4 linked regions of the Homo sapiens genome follow. The protein of the gene in region 2 interacts with the protein of the main gene of each other region in a pairwise test. Each region holds a gene or a part of one and is shown on either strand. Other genes may lie near its edges.

Evidence for each region.
Region 1: the proteins of ERBB4 (region 2) and TROAP interact in binary tests that used the Homo sapiens proteins (3 or more experiments, as listed by UniProt).
Region 3: the proteins of ERBB4 (region 2) and PTPRH interact in a two-hybrid assay, tested with the Homo sapiens proteins (one study listed by BioGRID and IntAct).
Region 4: the proteins of ERBB4 (region 2) and MTMR2 interact in a two-hybrid assay, tested with the Homo sapiens proteins (one study listed by BioGRID and IntAct).

What each region holds. Positions count from the first base shown.
Region 1 is NC_000012.12:49,318,792-49,326,268, reverse strand, and holds the start of TROAP (tastin), read right to left. Parts: upstream 3,015-7,477; 5' UTR 2,920-3,014; intron 2,666-2,919; 5' UTR 2,661-2,665; coding exon 2,517-2,660; intron 2,425-2,516; coding exon 2,232-2,424; intron 2,123-2,231; exon of another isoform or gene 2,115-2,122; coding exon of another isoform or gene 1,995-2,114; exon of another isoform or gene 1,881-1,994; intron 1,778-1,880; exon of another isoform or gene 1,693-1,777; intron 769-1,692; coding exon 611-768; intron 523-610; coding exon 385-522; intron 194-384; coding exon 111-193; intron 1-110. UniProt on the Homo sapiens protein: Could be involved with bystin and trophinin in a cell adhesion molecule complex that mediates an initial attachment of the blastocyst to uterine epithelial cells at the time of the embryo implantation.
Region 2 is NC_000002.12:211,380,778-211,387,802, forward strand, and holds part of ERBB4 (receptor tyrosine-protein kinase erbB-4 isoform JM-a/CYT-1 precursor), read right to left. Parts: intron 6,374-7,025; coding exon 6,076-6,373; intron 3,284-6,075; coding exon 2,838-3,283; 3' UTR 1-2,837. UniProt on the Homo sapiens protein: Tyrosine-protein kinase that plays an essential role as cell surface receptor for neuregulins and EGF family members and regulates development of the heart, the central nervous system and the mammary gland, gene transcription, cell proliferation, differentiation, migration and apoptosis.
Region 3 is NC_000019.10:55,199,477-55,206,501, forward strand, and holds part of PTPRH (receptor-type tyrosine-protein phosphatase H isoform 1 precursor), read right to left. Parts: intron 6,117-7,025; coding exon 5,850-6,116; intron 4,573-5,849; coding exon 4,306-4,572; intron 2,847-4,305; coding exon 2,580-2,846; intron 1,027-2,579; coding exon 760-1,026; intron 1-759. UniProt on the Homo sapiens protein: Protein phosphatase that may contribute to contact inhibition of cell growth and motility by mediating the dephosphorylation of focal adhesion-associated substrates and thus negatively regulating integrin-promoted signaling processes.
Region 4 is NC_000011.10:95,914,088-95,921,112, forward strand, and holds part of MTMR2 (phosphatidylinositol-3,5-bisphosphate 3-phosphatase MTMR2), read right to left. Parts: intron 3,400-7,025; exon of another isoform or gene 3,290-3,399; intron 1,877-3,289; exon of another isoform or gene 1,728-1,876; intron 226-1,727; exon of another isoform or gene 155-225; intron 1-154. UniProt on the Homo sapiens protein: Lipid phosphatase that specifically dephosphorylates the D-3 position of phosphatidylinositol 3-phosphate and phosphatidylinositol 3,5-bisphosphate, generating phosphatidylinositol and phosphatidylinositol 5-phosphate.

The sequences.
Region 1 (7,477 bases), on a different chromosome or scaffold from region 2:
GGTGGGGAGTCCTAAAGCTCCTGGAAGGCCCCAACTCTGGGGGACTCCTGTATCAGACACTGGTTCATTCTTTTCCAGATGACCTTCTCCCACACCCTCTCCTTTCTCACCGGCTGCTGCCAGCTGTCTCCCTTCTTAGCTCCTGGAAACTGGGGCGAGTGGAAGGGTGAAAGGAAGGTCCTGAAGGTGAAATCTGATCCACAGGAGCAAGAGATGAAAACGGAATCAGAGGTGGACCCCAAACCCTCAGGCCTCACCACCAACCCCATCTCCCCCAGTAGGATCCCTTGCCTCATCATGAGGTACCTCTTCTCCCAGAGCCCAGCTTTGTCCCTGGAAGGAGCTCCCAGAAGCACCGACTATCAGCCCCTCAAGGGCACTCACCAGAGCCTGTAGCCTCTGGGGGCACAATGTCCGGCCTCGAGGTCCTGGTCCCTCCAGCCTAGAGAAGCAGGAAGCCCTGGCAGGGTCCAGTCGGTGGGTGGGGGTTCTGGGGGCCAAATATGCAGAGGCCCGAACACCCTGGGACACCAACAGAGGCTGTCAGCACTGCTCAGGATGCCCCCCTCAGTGCCCCCTAGCCTGGTCTCCTCACATCCTGTTTCATTACCTGGACCCTCTGGGTGGTGCCTCCCTGACTTCCTCGAACCAGTACTCTTTTAGCCAGACTAGGCTGGCGCCCCAGGTGACAGCTCTTCACACCCTCACCTGACAGGATGGTGGCCAGGGCTGCAGGGTCAGCCACAAACTCTATGGTCCCTGGAGCCTCTGCAAGGAAAGAGGAGAAGGAAAAGGAAGGGGGAAGGCTGAGGGGGATAGGGCCCCTAGCATAGGAACTTTGAGGTACAAGGTGAGCAAGAGACTCATTCAATTGAATTTGGCTTATTTTTTTTTTTTTTTTTAAGAAATAGATGGCTGGGTGCAGTGGCTCATGCCTGTAATCCCAGCACTTTGGGAGGCCGAGGCGGGTGGATCACCTGTGGTCAGGAGTTTGAGACCAACCCGGCCAACATAGCAAAACCCTGTCTCCACTAAAAAAATACAAAAATTGGCTGGGTGCGGTAGCTCACTCCTGTAATCCCAGCACTTTGGGAGGCTGAGGCAGGTGGATCACCTGAGGTCAGGAGTTTGAGACCAGCCTGGCCAACATGGTAAAACCCCATCTCTACAAAAAACAAAAACAAAAAAAAATTAGCTGGACCTGGTGGCGCGCGCCTGTAGTACCAGCTACTCAGGAGGCTGAGGCTGGAGAATCACTTGAACCTGGGAGGTGGAGGTTGCAATGAGCCAAGATCGTGCCACTGCACTCCAGCTTAGTGACAGAGTGAGACTCTGTCTCAAAAAAAAAAAAAAAAAAAAGAAAGAAAACAAAAATTAGCTGGGTGTGGTGGCAGGTGCTGGTAATCCCAGGTACTCGGGGTGAGGCATGAGAATCGCTTGAACCTGGGAGGTGGATGTTGCAGTGAGCCGAGATCATGCCACTGTACTCTAGCCTGAGGGATAGAGTAAGACTCTGTCTCCACAAAAAAAAAAGAAAAGAAAAAAAAAAAGAGAAAAAGAGATGGGGTCTCACTATGTTGCCTAGGCTGGTCTCAAACTCCTGAGCTCAAATGATCCTCCTGCCTCGGAGGAGTGTTGGAATTACAGGCGTGAGCCACCACACCTGGTCACCAAATGTTCATAGAATGTTACATAAGACACTATTCTAAGCACTGGGGTCCCATAAGAATAAGACAAAGCCCCTATCCTCAAGAGGCTATCATCAAACTATAGACAGGTAACAGACTCAAGCCAAGGTATATACATGTTATAAAAGAAGTGCTGCAAAGTATTAGGAGAACACAGAGCAACTGATTGTGACATGGGGAACTGGAAAAGGCTTCAGAAGAAGTGATATTTATTATTTATTTATTTATTTATTTTTTAAAGAGATGGGATCTCCCTCTGTCATCCAGGCTGGTCTCCAACTCCTGGCCTCCAGTGATCCTCCTGCTTCAGCCTCCTGAGTAGCTGTGATTACAGGTACAAGCCATGGCACCTGGCGAGATGACATTTTGCTGGAGGAAAGGGAGATCTTCTAAGAGCAAAGAGCTTTCCAGGAGCTGGGACCAGGACTATCACAGTAAGTAGGAGACAGCAGGAGTGAGTGCAAAACCCCAAAACCCCACTTTTACCCTTCCTAGTCCCCTACTCAGCCATGGAGGCCGTGTTACCATGGCTCCAACAGGTACCTGTCTGGGCAGGGGGCCCAGGCCCCACATTTTGACCCCTAGGGCTAGGCCTGAGCTCTTCCAAGGGGTTCCGAGGCTGACTGATCCCCACCAATCTTTGTGATGTCTCTGCCTGGTGCCTGGCTTTCGGCCTGGGGCCTGCTGAATCAACGAGGGGGCGTTGAATATTGAGCGGTGGTTTCTGCACCCATCTCTAGGGGAGGGAGCGGGGACAAAAAGGTGAGGTTTAGTGTTGGGGTGCATTACTGGTGTGACTACTGTCTTCCCCCATTAGGCCCCTCTTACCCTTGGATCTTGGTTCTCCTGGTCCACGGCGCACGATGTAACAGTGGGGAAAGGCGTGCGTTTCTGAGAGCGTACCGGAATCTTGCTAGGGGTAGGAGATACACCCCGGAGGAGGGGATCCTTCGTGGCTTGCCGGGTGGTCATGATGGCTACAATTGAGACGGGGAAGAAGGCAGGCAGAATCTAAGATCAAAGATCAACCAGTTCTCGGGGCACCTGTCCTGCCATCCCTGATACCTCCGCCCTAATCCACGCGCCCACAAGCCCCCGGCGCCTGCAAGACCGCTCTTATGGGTGCTATCTCCAGACACCCCGAGCCTACTCTTTCGCCCTCGGGCCCCAAACTGCCCTCCTCCCTATGAACCCAGCAGCCTTCGTTCCCTTCAAGACCCCCGTGCCTTACCTTACCGAGGCCCCTCAGGGCCTACCCAGCTTCCTCCGCTTTTCTCCTGACCCTCTCGGGTGCTGCTGGAGCTACTTTCTCAGTTTGTAAAATACGCCAAGCTCTTGATTGGCCCGGTCGCGCTCCCGCGGAGGCCCGCGTAGCCAGACTCAGCCGTCCAATCCGCGGGCATCGCAGGAGGGGCCAAAAGAAGGACCAATTGTCGAACCGCTTTCTGGCGAGGAAAAAAACTGACTCGGATCAATCAGCCAATCCGAGAGTGGAGCGCCGCTGGGAGGCGGGGAAAGAGGAAGGATGGGGCCGTTCCGAGGCCGGGGAAGGCGTAGCCACGGGAGCTCTCGCGAGGCCTCAGGACCGGCTAGGGGCCGGCCATTGGCAGGACCGGGCGAGGTCGCGGTACTGAGGGTACAGTTGATCGTTCCGATTGCTGCCAACGGTGTTGAAGGCTGGCCCGAGCCCCCGACCCGGCTTGACCATAGCACGGCGCCAAGCTTTGGGGACGCCATTCCAGATGCCCATAGAAAATATCTGCGTCCGGGCGCGGTGGCAGGCGCCTGTAATCCCAACACTTTGGGACGCCGAGGCGGGAGGATCTCTTGAGCTGAGTTTGAGACCAGCCTGGGCAACATAGCGAGACCACTCCCACCCGTTTCTCTACAAAATAATAAAATAATAATAATAATCCCTGTGCAGTGGTGCGCGCTTGTAGTCCCAGCCGCTCTGGAGGCTGAGGCAGGAGGATCGTGTTGAGCCCAGGAGGTTGAGGCTGTAGTGAGCTGTGGTCGCGCCACTGCACTCCAGCCTGGGCAACAGAGACCCTGTCTTAAAAAAAATAAAGAGGGAAAGAGAGAACATCTGTACGTTGTCTCCGGGATAAGGAACTGCCTTCAAACGGGCGGAGAGGGCTGGAGGGAATCGAACTGAGCCTAACAATATGTGTGCTCCTTGGAGCCTCACAATCCAGTGAGGTGTCTGATGAGGTGTCTTTCATTTTACGGGTAGGTAACAAGACTCATTGTTTTTGAACTCAGTTACCACAGCACCAGAATTGAATGGCTACTCACAGCTGGGGATTTCCTTGCCTCCAGGTTGCCTTTTGCAGATCTAGAGGTCTGGGGAGAGGGGGCTCACCTGCTGGTTATTGGTGGGCAAGGCTGTGAGACTGAGAGATCCTAGAATATCCTGCTTAAGATGGAAGGGGTAACCCCTAACGGGGGACAGGAAATGAACAACACTTAACAGAACTCTGGTGGATTTTCCCCACCAATCACAGAAGTTATTCTTACACAAGCCAGAAACCGAGGAGTTACTCCTTAACTCCTCCCACTCCCTTTACATATCCCATCTCTCATTCACTCTCACTAGTTTTACTATTTATGCATTTTTGGGACAGGGTCTCACTCTGTCGCCCAGGCTGGAGTGCAGTGGTGCGATCTCAGCTCACCGCAGCCTCGGCCTCCTGAGGTGGGAACCTCAGCCTCTCAAGTAGCTGGGACTACAGGTGCCTGCCACCAGCTAATTTTTGTGTTTTTTTGTAGAGACAAGATCTGGCTACGTTGTCTAGCCTGGGGTTACAGGCGTCTTTCCCAGCACTTTGGATGGCCCAGGTGGATCGCTTGAGGCCAGGAGTTCCAGACCAGCCTAGACAGTGTAGCAAGATCCTGTTTCTATAAAAAAAAATTTAAAGATACGTAAGGTATCTTTACTAATTGTATGCATCTTTAAAATTCATCTACTTTCAGGCTGTGCGCGGTGGCTCACGCCTGTAATCCCAGCACTCTGGGAGGCCAAGGCAGGGGGATCACCTGAGGTTGGGAGTTCAAGACCAGGCTGACCAACATGGAGAAAACCGTCTCTACTAAAAACACAAAAATTAGCCGGACTTGGTGGCTCATGCCTGTAATCCCAGCTACTCAGGAGGCTGAGGCAGGAGAATCGCTTGAACCCAGGAGGCGGAGGTTGAGGTGAGCCGAGATCGCACCACTGCAACTCCAACCTGGGCAACAAGAGCGAAACTCCGTCTCAAAAAAAAACCAAACAAACAACAACAAAAAGATCATCTACTTTCGGCTGGGTTTATGACTGTAATCCCAGCACTTTGGGAGGCCGAGGTGGGCGGATCACCTGAGGTCAAGAGTTTGAGACCATCCTGACCAACATTGTGAAACCCCGTCTCTACTGAAAATACAAAAATTAGCTGGGCATGGTGGCTGATGCCTGTAATCCCAGCTACTTGGGAGGTTGAGGCAGGAAAATCACTTGAACCCAGGAGGCAGAGGCTGCAGTGAGCCAAGATTGTGCCACTGCATTCTCCAGCCTGGGTGACAAGAGTGAAACTCTGTCTCAAAAAAGAAAAAAAATTTCTTACTTTCTCTTTCTTTCTTTTTTCTTTTTCTTTCTTTCTTTCTTTTTTCTTTCTCTCTTTTTCTTTCTTTCTCTTTTTTTTTCTCTCTCTCTTTCTCTCTCTCTCTCTCACTCTCTCTTTTTCTTTCTTTCTTTTTTTTTGAGACAGAGTCTTGCTCTATCCCCCAGGCTGGAGTGCAGTGGCCTGATCTCAGCTCACTGCAGCCTCCACCTCCCGGGTTCAAGCGATTCTCCTGCCTCAGCCTCCTTAGTAGCTGGGATTACAGGCACCAGCCACCATGCCCAGCTAATTTTTGTATTTTAGTAGAGACGGGGTTTCACAATGCTGGTCAGGATGGTCTCGAACTCCTGACCTCAAGTGATCCACTTGCCTCGGCCTCCGAAAGTGTTGGGATTACAGGCGTGAGCCACCGCACCCGGCCCATCTACTTTCTTGTTCTTTGTTAGCACCACCCTAATCCACCTCAGTCTCACCTAGGCAATTGCAAGAGTGTCTTAGTTGGTCTCCCATCCCCTATTCTCTCTTTCTCTTCACACTCTTCCATTCTCCATATAGCAGCTAGAGTAATCTTTCCAAAATGCACATCAAGTCAGGCTACCACTATCCCTTGACCTCTCCCCACTGAAACCCTCCATCTTCTACCACTCTTCCCCTTCTATTAATATCTCCAACTTCATGGCTTCTTTCAATTCCTCAAGTTTGTCCTGATTGCTCTATATGGTCCCTGTTTCTGGAATGTCCTTTTCACTTCCACTTGGCCTATTTATGCCTCCAAATTGATTCCCATTGTTATTTCCTCAGGCCTTCCTTGCACCCCTCTACCTACCACCCACCCCAATCTAGTAAAGACCTCTTGGCTATGTGCTCGCAAAAAGTAATGTTTGTTTCCTCAGAGCATGTATGTTAGTTGGTAATTATATATTAATCAGTGTGAACATAATATGTTTACTAAACCCAGTTTCCTCCAATAGACCTCCAAGGAGATGATGAAGGTGACCCTCTATTTTTGGCCTACCATCATATCTTTAGTACCTTGCATTATCCTTCGTAAAAGTGCTCAATCCTTGTTGAATGAGTCAATAGATAGATGAATATATGATTGAATGCATCAACAAGGAAGACCTCCAAGAAGAAATAATGTTTGAACTTCCTCTTTAAAAAAATTTTTAAGGTCAGGCGTGGTGGCTCATGCCTGTAATCCCAGCACTTTGGGACACCAAGGCAGGCGGATCACTTGAGGTCAGGAGTCTAAGACCAGCCTGGCCAATATGGCAAAACCCGGTCTCTACTAAAAATATAATTAGCTGGGCGTGGTGATGCATGCCTGTAATCCCAGCTACTCAGGAGCCTGAGGCACGAGAATCACTTGAACCCAGAAGGGAGGGTTGCAGTGAGCAGAGATCATGCCACTGCACTCTAGGCTGGGAGAAAGAGTGAGTGAGACTTTGTCTCAAAAAAATATATATTTTTAATATACACTTTTTTGTATAGAGATGGGGTCTTGCTATGTTGCCTAGGCTGGTCTCAAACTCCTGGGCTCAAGCCATCCTCCTGCCTCAGCTTCCCACAGTGCTGAGATTACAGATGTCAGCCACTGTGCCAGCCTGCTTTTACTTTTTTTGATTAACTCTGTTTTCAGGATTCATCCTTATTACTACATATAATCTAATTCATTGCTTATACCTGCTACATAGGATTCCATGGTAGGCATCCATTATACTTTACTTACCCATTCCTGACTTCTACACACAATGCCAGACAGTTATCTCTTTCATAGTCCCCTGTGAACCAGTTCAAGAATTTCTCTGGAACATATTCCTCGGAGTGGAATTTCTGTGGTAAGGTATATGCATGCTCAATTTTACTAAGTAGCACCAGATTATTTTTCAGAAAATCTGTAGCTGTAAACCGGGCATGGCACACACTTGTAGTCCCAGCTTCTTAGAAGGCTGAGGTAGGAGGATTGCCTGAGCTCAGGAGTTTGAAGCCAGCTTTGATAACAGTGAGACACTCTAAAAAAAACCCTGAAAAACAAAACCAAGCAAGAAAACCCAGGTCTGTAGCTGTTTACAGTCTCAACATCATTACTGAAAGTTCTTATTACCTCATACCCTTTCCAACACGTAATATTATACAACTCTCTAATATTTGCAATTCTAATAGGTATATTAAGTGTACTCTCAGTTATTTAAA
Region 2 (7,025 bases):
CCCAACATGTAGAAGTCTTGTGTTCTTAGGAGGAAAGAGACATTCACTAAATACATTTCTGTTACCTTAACAGTTAAAAGTTTGTTTTAACTATTCATTTTTTCCTTCTCCAAAATGAGTGATTCTGCTTTCTATAGCCCAGTAGAAACCATATGCATATTGTAAATCAGAAAAAAAAAATCAAGGTATAGTATCCAAAAAGAGGGCTGTGATGACTCGATGCAGATTTATTTAGAAAGGGAGGCTTATATTCAATTTTTCATAAGTACTGATATGAGATCCCTTTTCCTAGAGACTTCTCTGAATGGATAGGAGAGCCCTGAGCTATTAGATTGTGGCCCCTGAATCACTCTGTGTCTTTACCCCTGAAAAGTTTGAGGGTGAACTTCACTAGAAGGAATCTCACAAACCCTTCTCCTGCTCTACCATACTTTTTCAGCTCGCCTCACTTCTTATAGCTTAGAAAAAAACCAACTCCAATGTCTCCAATATTCTTGGCCAAGGACCACCATCTGCTTTTGGTTTAATGGTGAAGTTAGACTCTAGATAGGCTAATTAGTCAGTGATGCAATATTCTCCTAGACCAGTTTATGTTTGAATAATATTATTGAAATTATCCTGTTTGTCAACATCAACAATTTGAAGGATGTTTAACTTATATCCCAAATGAGTTTAAAGGAGATATCTTACAGTACAACTGATTATATGACAGCTATTCACAAAAGAGACTATGCAATCTGATTGTTGGAACGCATAGAAAAATTAAAATGTCATTTTAATTAAATCTCCTAGATCATAGAATTTTGAAGTTGAGGATGATATTCCATTTATCTGAGTGTTCCCCACAAAACATGGTGCTTTTAGTAGACACAGTTAGATAAAGGAGGTTTGGATGGATGGATGGATGGATTTACTTGTTCAGAATAGGAAGAAACACAAATTTCTTTGGATTTTTTTCTCTAAACTTTCTCTGCCTTAATAGATATTTTTACTCTAATTAATTAATCTTATACTATTGATTCTAATTTGGTCCCAATATTTTAACATTAGAAATATTTTTTAAAAATCTAAATGACTTGGGGTAGAATTTTCAGAAAAGGGCGACTTATATCTAAGTTTCCTAATTATTGATGTGAGGCCCCCTTTACTTGGAGACTCATCTCTGTCATTTGTTCTCATCCTTCATCTCATCAGGTATTCTTTCAAAATGATACATAATAATGATGGTTCTAGTACTGGATGCAGTATATGAAGAAAGGGAATTATATAAAGTATCAAAAGATTAGTGTGTTGGATAATAAAATAATTGCATGAGAAGATGTTTCACATTTATTTACAACTTTTGACCCAAGGACCTATCCCTAAGCTTTGAATGTTTGTGTTTTTCTTTTTATTATACCAATTTATGTGCAAAGAGTTACCTTCTACTTCATATAAATAGTCTCATACTAGAAATTCCATGGAATTCAAGCCAATCCTTACTCGCATTCCTTCTTACGAAGTATACGAACTGAACAAATTTCCTTGCGTAGCAAAGGTGACATATGAAGATAATGTGCTGGCCTCTCATCATAGTCCCTGGATACCGTTGCAAGGTTCCTAATTTGCTTGGTTTGGCATTTCCACAGTCTTTATCTTAGCTCTTTTTTTAAAAATGTACTTAAATTAGTTAATTTGCTGGTTGCTTCCATATTGCTTGATTCAAAATCCAAAATGGAGTTCAGAAAAAGAACAAATAAAATTACAGCTTAAGTGCAAACTACATTTCTGAGTATCTGCCAGGTAGACATACCCAATCCAGTGTGTTTCTTCCAGTTCAATGGATTCCCTCATTGGGCCACCCCTGAAAGTATCAGTAGTTTTCCTGAACCACAGAGAACTGTCTCTTAGTTTCCCTTCTACTCTTCAGACAACCAACGGCCTATCAAGTAGTGTCATTTATGGAGAAAAAAAAATGTTGAAAAATGTAAAGGATGAGGGTGAAGATAATTTGATAGCATGAAAAATATTAGCCTCCCTTTCTTATTTTAAAGATTGTATACTTAAAGTAGTGGCCATTTCACTATATTAAAATATTTCTTGCTTAAATTCTGTGAAGAAGCTTTGATGTAAACATCTTTGCAATTAGAAATTAAAGCCAAAAATAGGGGAGCAAATATAAAGGAATCGGTCAGAGCAAAACAAAATGAAAAAAACCAAAAAGTGTTGAAAACATAATTACTAGTTATAACTTTAATGGAGATTTTTAAATTATGAAAGTTGAGTTGGCCATTCTTACTTGCTAGGACAGAAACTGCTGGGGAAAGAAACTGGATTCTCAATTTCAGACACCATCATATGTTATAGAAAATGTTATTCTTTTGTTCTAATGGAAACTTTATTATGATTTCCAGGGATGCTAAATATGCACACATCAGTTCCTGCAGATAGGAACAGATAGCATGGGTGTTTCAACCATCTGCTTTAAAAAAAAAAAAAAAAAAGAAGAGGAAGAAAGAAACAAAGAAAGAAAAAGAAAAAGAAAAAAAGTGACAGCTAGTTTGATAGTAGGCAGCATTGCCTTACATTTTCTGGTCCTTCTCTAGCTGTTTCATTCTCCTGACCAACCCATGCAGAGAAATGAAGAAACATTGTGGTTCCTCCTATCTTTCTCTTTCAGTCTTTCCCTCTAATGTTCAAGTTAGGTAAGCACATAACTATCATTGCATCTCTGTATCTTCCACTGGGAAGTGTCAAAACTACTGGCCTTGGGGTAGAAGGAAGACCACCAGAGAAAGAGAGGGGGGTGGGGAAATTGGAGCAGGTGTGTCTCTCCACCTAAAAAACCACAACTGAGCTTACACCACAGTATTCCGGTGTCTGTAAGGTGGAGGCGGCAGCACAGTGCCTGGCTTCAGGGAGAACTCAGAGAGGTATTCAGGATTCTCTGCCACAATAGGCCGGATCCGCCCATTCTGTTTATAAAAATATTTTGTGCTGTACTCCTGCAGGTAGTCTGGGTGCTGAAGGGTGCTCCGAGGTGGCAGGCTGTGGTTCCAGTAGTCAGGGTTGTCAAACGCTTTCTTGGCCTTCTCTGGCATTGACAGTATGTTGTTCTTCAGGTACTCAGCTTTTCCCAAGGTGTTGGCAAAGGTGTTGAGGTACAGTGGCTCATTCACATACTCATCCTCGGCCTTGGGTGGACCATTGGATGCATTGTGATATTCGGGATTATCCAATGCTTGAAGGTCTCCATTTTTTCTCCGAGAAACAAAAGGGTTCTCCTCCACTGGATTCAGGTATTCTAAAGGAATAAAAAAATATCAGCTAACCTCTAGTTTCTGGAAAATATTAATCAGACCAAGGTTATACATAATGGTTAGCTTCTTTGTCTAGAACAAAAAAACCCACAGATTTGTTTTCATGATTTCTCACAACAAGTATTTGTGGATCACCATTGTCTTATGAAAAAAAGAGTAAGTGGGTCAAAAATGTTTATAATAAAACAAGAAGCCAACGAGGCCAGAATCAGAATTTCTATCTCCTAAATTTTTCTTTCTTTCTAATTGCATTTGTCTCTTCTGCATATGGGGCTGGTTGTTTCAATGTTTTTGTTTTCTAAAAGTTATTTATATTAGGAAATAAGACTACCTATTAGGATTAAATAGTCTTTAAATATACAGACAACTTAACTTCTATAAAGGATATTGAAAAAACAAGAATCTATAGCTGAGTTCCATGCCAAGATGAATAGATGGAGTGAAGAAATCATGTTTTTTAGTCTCTATGGTTTGCTATGATTGCCTATACTGGTAACAAGGATTTAATTGGAGATGCTTCTGAAAAAGGTTTTACACATGGAAAAGAAAGCATCAAAGGAAAAAAATTCAACTAAAAAAGCAAATCTAACAGATAGCTAACATGCCTCTAGTTGACCTGCTTGACATTACATATACTTCTACTTAATAGTAAAGTATAATTATAATATTTCCATTGACCAATCATAATCACAAAGTAGCAAACTATCAGCTTGAATTATATAAAATAAAATAAATTTTGTATATTGAAACCAGTCAATTAGTGCCTATTTTGTACGGATCAATCTAATAAATCCATCTAGTATAGGTATTGGCCTAAAAGGTGCTAATAATTATCACCATTCTCCTGAAGCTTAATTCCACATCTATGTCTATAATATAGACTGCACATAGACATAAACACGCATGTATTGTAAGTCCTCTGACAGTCCTCTCTTTTACTATATACACAAAGCCCTAAGCTATTCCTATTTTGAATTCAAGGCATGAAGAGGGCACAATTCTTTGTTGAGAGGCCATTCTGAAACAAACTTTCTGTCTTTTATCCTTAGCCCAATAAGTAGAGAGAAAAATCCTATTAAGTGAGGATTATTTTTCTCCAAATATATATATACAGAATAGGTAAGTATTTAGCATCATTTATTCAACTTAAAGGGCAGTAATGAATATCCCACTATCATATATAGGCCTTTACAAGACACTATCATTTCATCCTCCCAATTCTGTGAAAAAGAAGTACAAGACTTATTTTTCCAGCTTTGTAGACAGAAAAATGAGATTAAATGATGTGTGCAGGATACAATTAGTGTTGGGATAGAATTCAGGTCTTCTAACTCCTCTTGCATAATCTTCTTATTCTACTGCACTGTTTTTTATTATTGCCCCTGCAGGAGTTGGGTGAACTTTATGCTTAGTAACAAGTTTTAATTTGACAAGTGTATGAAAACATTTATAAGGAATGCAGAATTTGGTCTCTCTTACCAGATTCCTTAAACTTCTTAATTGAAAGAATAGGAATGTCTACACTAAAATTCTGTACTCTCTGAGTACGAGGTTAGACTATAGCAACCTTTTATAGAAACGGAGCTTAGTGTTCAGAGATAAAATCTGAGAATACAGTGTGACTCTATAGGGTGACTTGCTTTTCTCTTCACCTTACCTTTCCTCAATGCAATCTACTTATATATTGTCCTCATGCAAACTTATATAGCTGTCCAATAACTTTACGGTTGGAGTGAAAATCTCCCCAGAAAAGATTCTTCTTTGGGGTGAATCTGCCAAGTCTTCACAACGTCTACATTTGTGTCATTACTAGGCTACTATGAGCATCCAAACTCTTCATTACATTTTTATATGTATAGAAGTTTTAGATATGTAAAAATTTTATCTAGACAGATATATTTTAAAAGGTTATTTACAATTAGAGATCTCTAAATTTTACTTTAAAGGAGAGAACATAACCATATACCAGGCCCTTCTCAGAGTCTTAAAATGTAGTTTACTGTTGACACTAAAGACTGCGAGAGACATGATCATCATTTTTTAATAACAATCATCTATCTTCTCTGTTGTGATACTGTTAGCATAGAAGAAGAAAGGCTGTTTTGTTGCAAAATTGAAGCATTATTTGATTTGGGTGCTTAACATTTCTACTACTAACTTTACAAAATTATTGTTATGCTTTGTAAAACCACAGATTATTATTTTCAAATCTTGGTGGTATGCTTGTAAGTATATACAGGGTCAAACCTTTAATTTTTGAAAAACGTCATATAAGAACATAATATTTTCCTATAATAAACTAGGTTGTTTAAATGTCATCATTTAAATGAGTCAAACAAATCTTTTATTAGTGCCATCAAAAGCATCAGGCACTTTTGCCAACAATACCAGTCTTTCTGATCTCCGCAATTAAGTCCAATAAAGCTATGGTCCTGACACTTTGTAGTATGCTACTTCATTCAAATATTTCAACAAAATATGTTTAGAATAGTGCTTCTCAAGACTGATTGCTGTATGCAGATAGCCTGGGGATCTTGTTAAAATCCAGATTCCTATTCAGACGGGGCCTGCCTGAGATTCTGATTTATATAAATAATAATAAATAATGTGGATGCTGCTGATTCAGGGACCATACTACAAGTAGCAGTAGCCTAGGCCTTTACTGGATCACAAATGTTGTGCTGGTCAGCTATCTGGCAATTTCTATTCTGTACTTTGTTTATCTTGATGGAAGTGAACTTCGAATGGCGATCGTTTCTGAATAATCAGTTCATACCTTGTTTGGGTTTGTCTCGCATAGGAGTCATGTAACCTTCCTCATCCAGCTCTCCTCGTGGGCTCCGTTCTGGGGCAAACACGGTGGGGTCAGCACTGTACCTCTGGGTGCTACTGTCCTCTTGGACATGGGGTGCCACTGGCTTGCGTAGGGTGCCATTACAGCAGGAGTCATCAAAAATCTCAGCAGTAGCACCCTGTGCCACAGGAGCTTCTGGAATTGTGCTAGTTGGGGCTCTGTAGGGCACAGACACTCCTTGTTCAGCAGCAAAACCTCCATCTCGGTATACAAACTGGTTCTGTTAATAAGAGAAACATATGTGGAGAGAAGGCGTTGTTAGAAATAGTTTAAAAATGAATGTTAATAGCCACAAGGATATCAAAGCCAGTCTTTCAGAGAATAGTCATAGTATTTACTGGTTTTTTTTCCCCTAGTGGCTAATGGAGTTACAAACTATAAACACCTAAAATTTCCACTTTTCTTAAAAGATAAATCATCAGAAAATAATTTTGAAATACACATTCTAGTTTTATTAACCAACTGAAACATATTCTAATAAAATGTATTTGATGCCCTTTTCCCACAAGTGCCTATATTTAATACAAATTTCAAAGTGAATTTTTATGATAAATGCAAGTGTCATTAATTATAGACAGTTGTCATTAAGAATAGAAGTACATGGATATATTTTGAATAATCCTATGTCTTTATTCCCTTCGAAAATTCTGTGGTTATTATGAATTTGAGGCTCTAGTACCTAACTAGAGGATCATCACTATAATTCTGACTTTTTAGTACATGACCAATAATCAGGGAAGTAAAGATCACCTCCACATCCAGAAGCATAATTTATGTGCCCAGGTAAATCCTTCAGATAAAAATTGAAAGCTACTGTTGATGCATGATATCTCAATTTCGGATTATCAGCTGAGATAAAAACACATCTACAA
Region 3 (7,025 bases), on a different chromosome or scaffold from region 2:
TGCCTGTTGTCACAGCTACTTGGAAGGCAGAGGCAGGAGAATTGCTTGAGCCCAGGAGGCAGAGGCTGCAGTGAGCTGAGATTGTGCTATTGCACTCCAGCCTGAGTGACAAAGGAAAACTCTGTCTCAAGAAAGAAGAAAGAAAAGAAGGAAAGAAAGAAAAGAAAGAAGGAAGGAAGGAAAAGAAAGAAAGAGAAAAGAGAAAGAAAGAGAGAAAGGAAGGGAGGGAGGAGGGGAGGGAGAAAGGAAGGAAGGAGGGAAGGAAAGAGAAGGAAAGAAAGAGAAAGAGAAAGAAAGAAAGAGAGAGAGACAGAAAAAAAGAAAGAAAGAAGGAAAGAAAGAGAAAGAGAGAAAGGAAGGAACAAGGAGGGAAGGGAGGAAGGAAGGCTTTAAAGGAAGGAAAGAGAAGGAAAGAAAGAGAGAAAGGAAGGAAAGAAAGAAAGGAAAGAGAGAAAGCGAGAAAGGAAGGAAGAAAGGAAGGAAAGGGAAGGAAGGAAGGGGAAGGGAAGGAGAAAGAAAGAAAGAAAAGGCCTGTGTCCCCACAGCCCCACACTCAGCGGGAGAAGTCTGGATGGGCTCTCTTCTTCCTCAGGGCAGAGCCAGCCCCCAGCTGTGATTACATCTGTCCTGTGGACTTGGAGAGGCAGATGTCTGCAGAGCCTACGGACTACAGAGCCAGAGCCCAGAAGAGGTGCCACGCCGCTCCTGCTGGTTCTTAACCTCTCACCAAAACAGGGAGTGGCCGTTGAGGGTTCCTACCTGTGGAGATGCTGACATTCTGCCTGGAGCCACGTGCTCCATTTTTTTCTGCCCATACAGAGAATGTGTACAAGGTTCCGGGCTCAAGTCTCTCAGCTGTCACACTGGTATTTGTTGTGTTTCGGGTCTCTGTGCCACCACCGTCTCCAGTGTACTCTACCCAGTAGGTGTAGTCCTGAGGGTATGGGCCATCGGGGACTTCCCAGCATAGGGCGATGGAGCTGTTGGTCTGAGTCTCCATATGGAGGTTTCTCACTGGGTTGGGGGCTGAGAAAGTAGGAAGAAGATCCTATGTTGTCGGAGATACAGAACAGAACGGGGCAGGAGTGGGCCCCTCACTGCCCTCAACCATCTTAGCTCTTGTTCAACTGCTGGTGCCAGCAGATGCAGGGTGTATGTTCTAGACCGTGTTTCTCAGACTAATGTGCCGGGCGTGGTGGCTCACGCCTGTAATCCCAGCACTTCGGGAGGCTGAGGCAAGGGGATCACCTGAGGTCAGGAGATTGAGACCATCCTGGCTAACACGGTGAAACCTGTCTCTACTAAAAATACAAAAAATTAGCCGGGCGTGGTGGCTGGTGCCTGTAGTCCCAGCTACTCGGGAGGCTGAGGCAGGAGAATGGCGTGAACCCGGGAGGCGGAGCTTGCAGTGAGCCGAGATCGCGCCACTGCACTCCAGCCTGGGCGACACAGCGAGACTCCGTCTCAAAACAAACAAAAAAAACAAACAAAAAAAACAAAATAAAAATCTCCAATGGAATAGCATTAAGAGGTAGGGCCCTTGCAAGATTAGGTCATAAAGGTGAAGCCTTTATGCCTGGGGTTACTGCCTAAGAGAGGCCCAATGGCCCAGCACAGTTTCACATTTCATGTGAGATTACATGCCTGTAATCTCAGCAATTTGTGGGGCTGAGGTAGGGAGATTGCTTGAGGCCAGGAGTTAGAGACCAGCCTGGACCACACAGCAAGACCTCATCTCTAAAAAAAATAAATTAGTCAGGCATGGTGGCCCACGCCTGTAGTCCCTGCTACTTGGGAGGCTGAGGTCGGCGGATTGCTTCAGCCCAGGAATTTGAGGCTGCAGCGAGCTACGATCCTGCCACTGCACTCCAGCCTGGATGACAAAGCGAGACTCCAGCTCTAAAAAAAAGAAAAAAATAAGAGAGACTCAAGGGAGCTTTGTGTGGTGATGAAGACAGTCTCTCACTTTCCAATATGGTAGGCATTAGCACCGTGGAGGATGAAGGGGGGACTGGGAGCCCCTCAACAGGCCTTTTGAGCACATGAAATGTGAAACTGAATTTGCAGTTTCATGCAACTTTAATGAGTTTAAATTTAATAGCCACGTGTGGCTAGTGGCTACCATATTGGACAATGGAGGTGTAGACACAGGGAGCTGTCCACATCAGGGTCATGGAGCTGATGATCTGAGTTTCCATCCTCAATATGTGACACAGTTGGGAACTAGAAGAAGAGTCAGAGGGTCAGAGTGTCCCCACTCACAGTATCTAATTCCTTGAAAGCTCAGGTAACATGCCTTGGCCCCTACACATTCCTCTTGGTGCAGGAAGGTGCCCCTTGGCATTATGGTCCACATTCTAGAGAGTCCTAGACACAGACTGGCCCCAACTTAGCAGCTGGAGGTACCATGGACATTCATTCCTTCTTCATCTCCTGAGCTGAGACTGCCCCAGGATGTGGACATGAGTACCTGGCTCAATATGGCCCAGAGGGACTATGGAATAGACAATCGTCTACATTCTACTGCTTACTGTCCCTTAAACAAATAAGAGATCAAACAAATGGCGACTGCCTCTCACCTGTGGTGGCATTTCGAGTCTCCCGGGAGCTGTTGATTCCATTCTTCCCCACCCACACGGAAAACACATACAAACACCCGGGTTCAAGTCTATCCACGGTGATGTTGGTGTGTGCTGTGCTTCGAGTCCCTGCTCTGCCACCATCTCCAGTGTACTCAACCCCGTAGGTGGAGTTCTGTGGGTCTGGGCCATCGGGGACCTCCCAGGTCAGGGCGATGGAGCTGTTGGTCTGAGCCTCCACTGTCAGGTTTCTCACTGGGTTGGGAGCTGAAAACCAGCACAGGAGGGAAAATCAGTTGTAGTTTCTGGCCCTCAAACTTTCCAGCCCTTCCTTAACCATTGCATCCAGCAGGTGGAGGCAGGGAGGCCCAGTTCTGCACTGTCCAGTGTGGCAGCCACGAGTTCCACGTGAGTGTTGAGCACCGTGAGGTGGCTTTTGTGAAATGAGATGAGCCGTTAGTGTAAGATCCACACCGGCTTTCGAAGAGTTCGTATGAAATTAAGAATTAAGAATGTCAACTATCTGATTGATCCTATACACACACACACACACACATATATATACACATACACATATATATACACACACATATATATACATACACATATATATATATATTTTGTGGGTATATACTCAGTGTGTATATTTAATGATCCTTTCCTTATATTGATTACATGTCAAAATGATAATATTTTGTATCTGCCAGGCGCAGTGGCTCACACCTGTAATCCCAGCACTTTGGGAGGCTGAGGTAGGCGGATCACCTGAGGTCAGGAGCTCAAGACCAGCCTGGCCAACATGGCGAAACCCCGTCTCTACTAAAAATACAAAAGTTAGCCAGGTATGGTGGCATATGCCTGTAGTCCCAGCTACTCAGGAGGCTGAGGCAGGAGAATACTTGAACCCAGGAGGTGGAGGTTGCAGTGAGTCAAGATCATGCCACTACATTTCAGCCTGGGAGACAGAGACTCTGTCCCAAAAAAAAAAAAGGGCTGGGCACGGTGGCTCACGCCTGTAATCCCAGCACTTTGGGAGGCCAAGGCGGGTGGATCACAAGGTCAGGAGATCGAGACCATCCTGGCTAACACGGTGAAACCCGTCTCTACTAAAAATACAAAAAATTAGCCAGGTGTGGCGGTGTGCGCCTGTAGTCCCAGCTACTCGGGAGGCTGAGGCAGGAGGATGGCCTGAACCCGGGAGGCAGAGCTTGCAGTGAGCCAAGATTGCGCCACTGCACTCCAGCCTGGGCGACAGAGGGAGACTCTGTCTCAAAAAAAAAAAAAAAAAAATTGTATCTGATGGGCTACATAAAATATCTCATAGTAATTTAGTTTCTTTCTTTCCTTCCTTCCTTCCTTCCTTCCTTCTTTCTTTTTTGAGACAGGGTTTCTCTCTGTTGCCCAGGCTGGAGTGCAGCAGTCCAATCAGAGCTCACTGCAACCTCTGCCTCCCGGGCTCAAGCGATCCTCTCACCTCAGCCTCCCGAGTAGGTGGGACCACGGGAACACGCCACCACAGCTACTTTTTTATTTTTTTTGTAGAGACAGGCTGACCAGTTTCTTTGTACTTATTTTTATGTGGCTGATAGAAAATTGAAATTCTCACCTGTGGCTTCCACTGTGTTTCTATTGGACTAAAGAACCTGTCACATTTTGTCAGCTCCCAACCACCCCCTACCACTGTCCTTATAAAAGAAATAAAAATAAAACAGCGGCTGCCTCTTACCTGTGGCACTAGTGACAATCTCCACAGAGCTATTTACTCCGTCTTTCTCCACCCACACAGAACACGTATACAATGACCCGGGTCCAAGGCCATCCACGGTGACTCTGGTGTCTGTTGTGTTTCGAGTCTCTGTTCTGCCACCATCTCCAGTGCACTGAACGCAGTAGGTCGAGTTCTGTGGGTCTGTGCCATCGGGGACCTCCCAGCTCAGGGAGATGGAGCTGGTGGTCTGAGCCTCCACTCTCAGGTTCCTCACTGGGTTGTGAGCTGAGAAATTAGGAAGAAAGATCTAATATGAGCAGGACTACAGAACATAACGGGGGCAGCCAGTGAGCTTTTTGTTTGTTTGTTTTTTCGAGACAGAGTCTCTGTCTGTCATCCAGGCTGGAGTGCAGTGGCACGATCTCGGCTCACCACAGCCTCCGCCGTCCGGGTTCAAGCGATTCTCCTGCCTCAGCCTCCCGAGTAGGTGGGACTACAGGTCTGCACCACCACACCCGGCTTATTTTTATATTTTTTCACCATGCTGGCCAGGCTGGTCTCGAACTCCTGACCTCAGGTGATCCTCCCACCTCGGCCTCCCAAAGTGCTGGGACTACAGGCGTGAGGCAACATGCCTGGCCAAGTGGGCATTTTTGATCATCAGAGTTCCTAGTTGTCCCTCAACAGCTGGTGCCAGTAGATGCAGAGTTTATGGTCTAGACCAGGGCTTCTCATTCTTTGCTGTGTGCACATCTCACAGGGGACCTTGTGAAATGCAGGTTCTCACTCAGCAGGGCTAGGATGGAGCTGAGAGACTGCACTCCCCCCCACCCTTTTTCTCCCCCACCAGTGTCACTTGCCAATGTATTTCCATCAGCTCTCAGAGACCCGGATGCTGCCCACACATGGACCACACTTTGAGTAACAAAGACCTGAGCCAGCGCTTTCCAACTGAGCTTCTGCAACGATGGAAATGCTCTCCCACCTTCCAGTATGGTAGGAGAACAGAGAAGGAAATGGAAGCCCTTCAACAGGGCTTTCAAACATATGAAATGTGAAACTGAATTTGCAGTTTCATGCAACTTTAACGAGCTTAAATTTAATAGCCATGTGTGGCTGGTGGCTACCATATCGGACAATGGAGATCTAGCCAGAGGGAGCTCTCCACATCAGGATCATGGAGCTGATGATCTGAGTTTCCATCCTCAATATGTGACGCAGCTGGGGACTAGAAGAAGAGTCAGAGGGTCAGAGTGTCCCCACTCACAGTATCTAATTCCTTGAAAGCTCAGGTAACATGCCTTGGCCCCTACACATTCCTCTTGGTGCAGGAAGGTACATTCTAGAGAGTCCTAGACACAGACCGGCCCCAGCTTAGCAGCTGGAGGTACCATGGACATTCATTCCTTCTTCATCTCCTGAGCTGAGACTGCCCCAGGATGTGGACATGAGTACCTGGCTCAATGTGGCCCAGAGGGACTATGGAATAGAAATCCGCTACGTTCTCCTGCCTACTGCCCCTTAAACAAGTAAGAGCAAAACAAATGGCGACTGCCTCTCACCTGTGGTGGCATTTCGAGTCTCCCGGGAGCTGTTGATTCCATTCTTTCCCACCCACATGGAAAACGCATACAAACACCCGGGTTCAAGTCCATCCACGGTGATGTTAGTGTGTGCTGTGCTTCGAGTCCCTGCTCTGCCACCATCTCCAGTGTACTCAACCCCGTAGGTGGAGTTCTGTGGGTCTGGGCCGTCGGGGACCTCCCAGGTCAGGGCGATGGAGCTGTTGGTCTGAGCCTCCACTCTCAGGTTCCTCACTGGGTTGGGAGCTGAAAACCAGCACAGGAGGGAAAATCAGTTGTAGTTTCTGGCCCTCAAACTTTCCAGCCCTTCCTTAACCGTTGCATCCAGCAGGTAGAGGCAGGGAGGCCCAGCTCTGCACTGTCCAGTGTGGCAGCCACGAGTTCCACGTGAGTGTTGAGCACCGTGAGGTGGCTTTTGTGAAATGAGATGAGCCGTTAGTGGAAGATCCACACCGGCTTTCGAAGAGTTCGTATGAAATTAAGAATGTCAACTGTCTCATTGATCCTTTATATATATTTGTGTGTGTGTGAGTATATACTTGGTGTATATATTGAATGATCGTTTTTATATTGATTACAAGTCAAAATGAAAATACCTTGTATCTGCCAGGTGCAGTGGCTCACACCTGTAATCCCCGCACTTTGGGAGGCCGAGGCAGGCGGATCACCTGAGGTCAGGAGTTCGAGACCAGCCTGGCCAACATGGCGAAACCCAGTCTCTACTAAAAATACAAAAGTTAGTTGGGCATGGTGGCACATGCCTGTAGTCTCTGCTACTCGGGAGGCTGAGGCAGGAGAATCACTTGAACCCAGGAGGCAAAGGTTGCAGTGAACCAAGATCATGCCACTGCACTCCAACCTGGGCGACAGAGCAAGACTCTGCCTCAAAAAAAAAAAAAATTGTATCTGATGGACTACATAAAATCTCTCATAGTAATTTAGTTTGTTTTTCTTTTCTTTTGTTTTCTTTTGTTTTCTTTTCTTTTTTTTTTTTTGAGACAGGGTTTCTCTCTGTTGCCCAGGCTGGAGTGCAGCGGTCCAATCAGAGCTCACTGCAACCTCTGCCTCCCGGGCTCAAGCGATCCTCTCACCTCAGCCTCCCGAGTAGATGGGACCACGGGAACACGCCACCACAGCTACTTTTTAATTTTTTTG
Region 4 (7,025 bases), on a different chromosome or scaffold from region 2:
TTTTAAGGACAGGGACTTGGAAATGGAACTGAAGTTTGAAACTACTTGTTACTCATAAGTGCAAATTTCATTTGGGATAATATATAATCCAGAAATACTGTTGGCAATATTAACTTTTGTCCATTTTTATATCTGCATTTTCCCATTCACTTACATTATAATTTTTGAGATGTTTTATCTTCACTTCTGATGATCTTCAAATGTCAATGGCTCTTAACACATTAACTGTAAATAAACACAAAGGAACTTAGGGGAATTCAGAAATTTAAGGAACCCTAAAATATTCTAAATCATTGTGCAAAGCCTGCAGGGCAGGGAGTGGTGGGGAGGAGGCTTTGGCAATTACTTGCTTCATACTTTACATGATCTTCAAAATGTAAAACTGTTCTTTTGAATGAAATGATACTACCGATACTACCCTCTTAATCATCAGGTAATGAATGAAATGATACTATCCTCTTAATCTCAGGCAAAGAAAAAAAAACATCCTATTTTCTGTCAGAAGGCAAACAAAATTCAAAGGTAAAATTCTCTCCAAATACAAACTCTCACTTGGTGAATGTATACTGTATCTTTATCCTTCTCCAGCAAAATAGCAGGTCAAGGAAACTCATGTCCTTATCACTACCACCCAATCAACCTGCCCTGGGACTGCCCTCTAACTACAAAGCTTTGGTCTGCACCTGGGGCACTAGATCTTCAGGCATGTGTGTTCTTTAGAGCACACAGACCCTGAAGTCAAATGGACTTGAATTCACATGTCAAGGTACCCTCTCTAATCTTCCGTTTTCTTCTCTGTAAAATGGAAACATTAACACTCTCTACTTTATACAGTTATGAGGATTATATGAGAAAATGCATAGAAGAAATGTAGCACCATGCCCAGCATAGTAAGCATGCAATAAATGTTGTGCTATTTATATTATTGTTGTGTTTAATATTAACATTATTATTACTATAACTGTCTACCACTAGGAAAGCAAGGCTTGTTTTCAGTGTTGCTATTTTGAGGCAATGCCTTTGGTTATGATAAAAGAATGTTGTTATCTAATATTGGTAACAGAGAACAGAGAACAAAATTTTATTTTTGAACTTTGCTGGGCTTCTTGGCTCGCTCAAGAATATTAAGGCTTGTAATCACCAGCCCATCATCAGCCAGTTATTTTCCCTTTTGCTAATGCATAACCTCCAGACAAGGCCTCCTCCCTACCTCAGCAACTGCTCATTTGCTGCTATCAGTAAAAGCAATTCTGCCGAGAAGAGAAATGGATATGTTTCTGACTTAATGTCTATTAAATCCTCAGAGCCTGATGAATAAATGTTTTATCAATCCAAAGGAGACTTATATACATATGCTCTTCTATTCACATCCAAATTATAAACTCCTTATGTTTGAAATTATATGCTTAAAATATTAATATTTAAGTTAGGTGACAAAAGAATATATAAGACACAGATGTCTCCGCATTTTTAATAAAATGTTTAGGTCAAAGATATAAAAACAAACTGAATATTGGCAAAAGCATTCATAAATTAAAATGGTCAGCTTTATTTATTTCCCTTATGGAAACCACATCCTTACAACTGAAATGAGAGAAAATACCTAAGTAGAACCCGATGCAACATTCTAGAAGAGGATAAAATACATGGATACATGGCTTGGAAATGGATGTCAAATTGGAAGTAAGCAGAGTAGGCCATCAACTTCATTACCACTACTACTTTACCGTGCAATTCCTTGAGCTCTTCAAGTGAAATACAATATAGCACGGCAATCCATTCTTCCTTTGATTTCTGTTTCCCCATCACTTAATGATCTTGTCAATATTAAATGTACCACTTTCATTTTATGGTTCCAGATTAGGATTATAAAAATCTGACCCAAGACAAGACACAAAAAAATAGAAAGCTAAACTCAAGAGTTCAGAGTGCTCCAAGATACAATTCTCTTTTTTGGTCTGCAGCAATGTATTACCTCCTCTCTTTCAGTGTGTTTTCTATTTTGGTCATCGCATTTGCAGCTCTAAGGGTGTCTCTGGCATAAGTGAAATATTGCAGACTTTAGGTGGAAAATGTCTTTCTTTTAAATGATTCATCTGTACCCAAGGGGAAAAGCTGCTATGACTCCAATACCCATTCTCTCCTATTCCTCAGTGACAGAACCTCCAAATTTAGCTCAGCACAAAGGCCTCACAGATGAGACTGCCTATCCCAGCCTCTTGTTTACCTACGTATGGCCATGGGACCATCCATGTTTTAGCCAACTGGATGTAAGTTAAAAAAAATGACATGTGACTGCCAAAAAAGTATCCTTCAAAGAGAGAGAGTATGCTCCTCTTCTTCCCTTCCTCCTGAAGATATAATAGCTGGAGTTCCAACAATAATTTTGGTTCATGAGGTAACCCTGGAATGTAAGACAATCTGGGTCCTTGATACTTCAGATCCACCATATTAGATCTGTATTGACTATCTCCAGGCTTTCATGTGGAAAAAAATTTAGCATCTCCTATATTAAGCCACTGTCAGTTTGTATTTTGTTATGTGCTGCTAAACCTAAAGTAGAACTTAAAAAAAAAAAAGAATTTTCCAAATAACAGTGTTTAAATTTTTAATTAAAATATATTTTACAGGTAATTTTTAATATATTTAATACACAGCATTTGCTCTTATTTACTCTAGACTAAAAATATTTAAAGAGCCCAAGAGTTATTCACACAAAGTAAGAGTCTTTGAAAGAATAAATATTCACCAGTGATTATGGCCATAGGTCCTATGTACTTGGGGAAGGGAAGAATTATGAAGCTTGCTTATTAACAGTTTGTATTAATGACAACATTGGTACCTATATAGAAACATATTAGGAGGGACAGGCACAATTAGCTTTGCATAATAAAGCTACAGGAAAGGGAACTGAAGTTATTATTTTCAAGAAGGCATCTTCCCTAGTCCTTTTTATTTTAATAATCTAGTACCAACTTTATCTTTTTATACAGTTCCATTTTTAATTTGACTTCCTGTGGAAAGCAGGTTTTTAAAATCACTCCCTATCCTTGACTATCACCTCTAATAGTGTTTAATTATTATCTACCGATTTAACTAAATCAAACAGTAGACACAAAGATAGCAAGTACTTTACATATTCAAAACCATCTTCCTTACAAAGGAAAAATATTCCACACTAAAATCTGGAGAATTTCCATTACTCAAATCCTGAATCGCACGCAATCTTTGGCTCTGATGATTTTGAATACAATAGCATTAACTTGGCAGCTTTCCAAAATAAACTTACTGCTTTCTGGTCATCTGTATCCAGGTTATCTCCTTCCCCTGGGCATAATCCAAACTTTACAGGTTCAGGTGATGGCCTCCTGGAATTACTTGTTCATAATACAGTTGACCCTTGAACAACACAGGAGTTGGGGTGCTGACCTTCAACGCAGCTGAAAATCCGCATATAATTTTGACTCCCCAAACTACTCCCCAGACTTAACTATTAATAGACTACTGTTGACTGGAAGCTTTACGGATAACATAAACAGCCCATCAAAACATATTTCAGGCTGCACGCCAATATACTGAACTCTAACAATGAAAAAAAATGTTATTAAGACAATCACAAAGAAAAGAAAATACATTTACTACCCATTAAGTGGAAGTGGGTCATCATAAAGTTTGTTACCCTCATCATGTTGCACATGCTGAGGAGGAAAAGGAGGGGTTGGTCTTGCTGTGTCAGGGGTGGCAGAAGCAGAAGAAAATCCACATAAAAGTGGATCTGAACAGTTCACACCCATGTGGTTCGAGGGTCAACTGTACTTTTTTTAAAAATGCTTGTTTCCACTAATCTTTCTCACTAAGAATCTATTTTTAAGAAAAAGCCTAAAACGCATATTCTTGTTTTATGTTACTCAAAGAAAAATGCCTTAGGAAATTTCCTAGAAATCAAATCTAATAAATCGACAAGAGATGACTTTTACCTTTTACTACTTTAGTCAACATTTTTACAAAAATGCTCTCAAGTAATAGTTTTACAGTACTTCTAACATAGACCTTAACTTAGTTTTAACTAATGTTGATTGCATTACAAAAGGCACCAATTAGCAAAAGATCCAAGGCAGTGGTTCTCAAACTTCAGCATCCATCGGGATCACCTGGAAAGCTTGCTAAAACACCAACAGCTGGGCTCCACCCCTAAAATGTTAATTCAGTTAGGTCCAAGGTAGGGCCCAAGAATTTGCATTTTTAACAAATCCCAAAGAGATACTGATGCTACTGGCCTGGAGACCAAACTTTGAGAACTACTGGTCTACACTAATAGGAAATTATTGATAATAGCATAAAAAGGAAAAATACAGATATATACGGGACCCAGTCTCAGGTTCACTATCAACTTGCATTCTTCAAATATGTGCTTTCTGAAAAGCTACATAATTACTATGTCAGACCAATATTGTTTCTTATCTAAGAGAACTTAGATCTTTGAGGGTTTTTAAGTAATGAAATCCAAATAAGTAATTTTTAGTCTAATATGTTCAATGTTTGATACAAGGTACTACTAATAATGCCAAGGTTGTAGGTTCAATCTGGTAGCTTTACTCTGTTTTACAGCTATAATTTCTACCTCTAATCTTGCCAGCTGTCTCAGCAGACATGCCAAGAGTGACAAAGGGAATGGGTAAAAATGTGTGATTGTACACAAATCCATCACCACTACTAGAAAAACAACATAAAAGCATATTTCCTACCAACATATCACTTTTTTTTCTTGAGACGGGGTCTCACTGTCTTGCCCAGGCCAGAATACAGTGGCACTATCACAACCCACTGCAGCCTCAACGTTCCCAGGCTCAGGTGATCCTCTCACACCAGCCTCCCAAGTATCTGGGACTACAGGCATGCACTACCATGCCCAGCTAACTTTTTATTTTTTGCAGAGACAGTGTTCTGCCATGTGACCCTGGCTGGTCTGGAATTTCTGGACTCAAGCAATCCCAAACTGTTCAGCCTCCTAAACTGCTAGGATTACAGGCGTTAGCTACTGCACCTGGCCTCCAACACGTCACTCTTAAGTGACCTTGAGGCTAAAACTAAAGATGAGACCTTGCAACAAAATGTGTTTTAGAAATCTAGGAAACTCCTCTACTTCTTCAGGCTATAAGTATAATCAAAATCCATGGAAACAGAAATCTAGGAATTCCTGTTTTCAAATGATGATAATTTTAAGGCAGGCATGCAATTTATAAATGCAATTAGTTGAGAACTACTTTGAGTATGTGTACCCCCCCTTTGATTTTTTTAATGGAAGTTAAATGTAAATATAAGATGCTCATCAATGCTAATGAAATTATATACTACAAATTGATAAAACCAAATAATCTGGGATAAACAAGTATGGTACCCAGAATAACTAAAGCCTGAGGTTATATGAAGGATGACAAGAACACACATTAATTAAAACGACTAACAACACAAGTTAGAGCAAAAGGGGCAAAAGTAATCAAGAGTAGCAGATGGATAAATAGGTAGTTGAAGAGGACATAATAACCTCATTGTGTGTAGGACTGGGCACAGAACAGTAAAATCAGCTCAAGATGTCCAGTCTCCCATAAAAATAACTTCAGCTTAGACCTGAAATTGCAAGTGTTCAGGCCAAATTCAACAGAAGGAATCCTTTTTAATCCTTTGAATGGGAACAACAAACAAGACCAGTGGTGAACATTCCGTCAACATTCTTTTATTTAGATGTTCACTCAGCACCTATTCGGCACTAGATATCTTACCATTTGATTATGCACAATACAAACTAATCAAAGAAACCCACTAAAGCAGTGCATTTTATAATAGTGTATAAACTGAAAAATGGAAAACCAGACTAAGATGGCAGATTATTACCAATATAATGTCAAATTCTGCTGTGTAACTCATTACAGTTCTGAGACTCAAGCCTACTCTTATTATCACATCTGACCTACAGTATTATTTTACCTATATCTTATAAAGTCATACTTATATCAAGAATCAGAGCACACCCAACAAAAGTAAAATTACAGAATATAACTAGATTATTAGGATGCTAAAGTGAAGTTTTCCACAACTCCCTCTCTCTTTCTGTGGGGATAGATATACATGAAGAATGGCCAACAGCAAGATATACAAGAGTTGCTGAACAGTTTACTGAAGTATGGCAATATTAAGCAGGACTCACCAAAGACAACTATTGTTTTTTTTGTTTTTGTTTGAGATGGAGTCTCACTCTATTGCCCACTCTGGAGTGCAGTGGTGCGTTCTTGGCTCACTGCAACCTTGGCCTCCCAGGTTCAAGTAATTCTGGTACCTCAGCCTCCCAAGTAGTTAGGGTTACAGGTGCGTGCCACCACGCCCAGCTGACGATTACTTTTTTTTTTTTTTTTTTAAAGATGCAGGATGACATAACTATAGCTGGTTAGGAAACTACTACCTGGATATCATATGAAGAATGAAATTGCCCTTTTGTGGGCAAAAGCATCAGATCTATGATGACCTAGAAGGCATAACTGGAGACAAGAGAACTCTGAAATGACTACAGATACTTAGTAAGACTCATCACATGTTTATTGTGAACTACAGATTGCACAACAGCCTGTAATCCAACTTCAATGGAGTATGTCATTTTCATTTTTTAAAATATTTTTACTTATTTTAAAAAGTCTTTCTTTTTTAGAGATGGGGCCTCACTATGTTGCCCAGGCTGGTCTCAAACCCCTAGGCTCAAGTGATCCTCCCACCTTGGCCTCCCAAGTGCTGAGATTACAGGCATGAGCCATGGCACTCGGCCAAGTATGTCATTTTCAAAAAACAATGGGCAACCACATGGATTAGTGTATCATCCTTCCTACTTCCCAAAAGGGCTTCAGACATCTAATCAATACATTTAAACATAACACATAATATTTAACTTGAGTTCATGTAATAATAAAAGTACTTAAAGAAATTAGAGATGAGTATATTACCACCTTCAGATATAAATTTGACTAAAGTTTTACTAA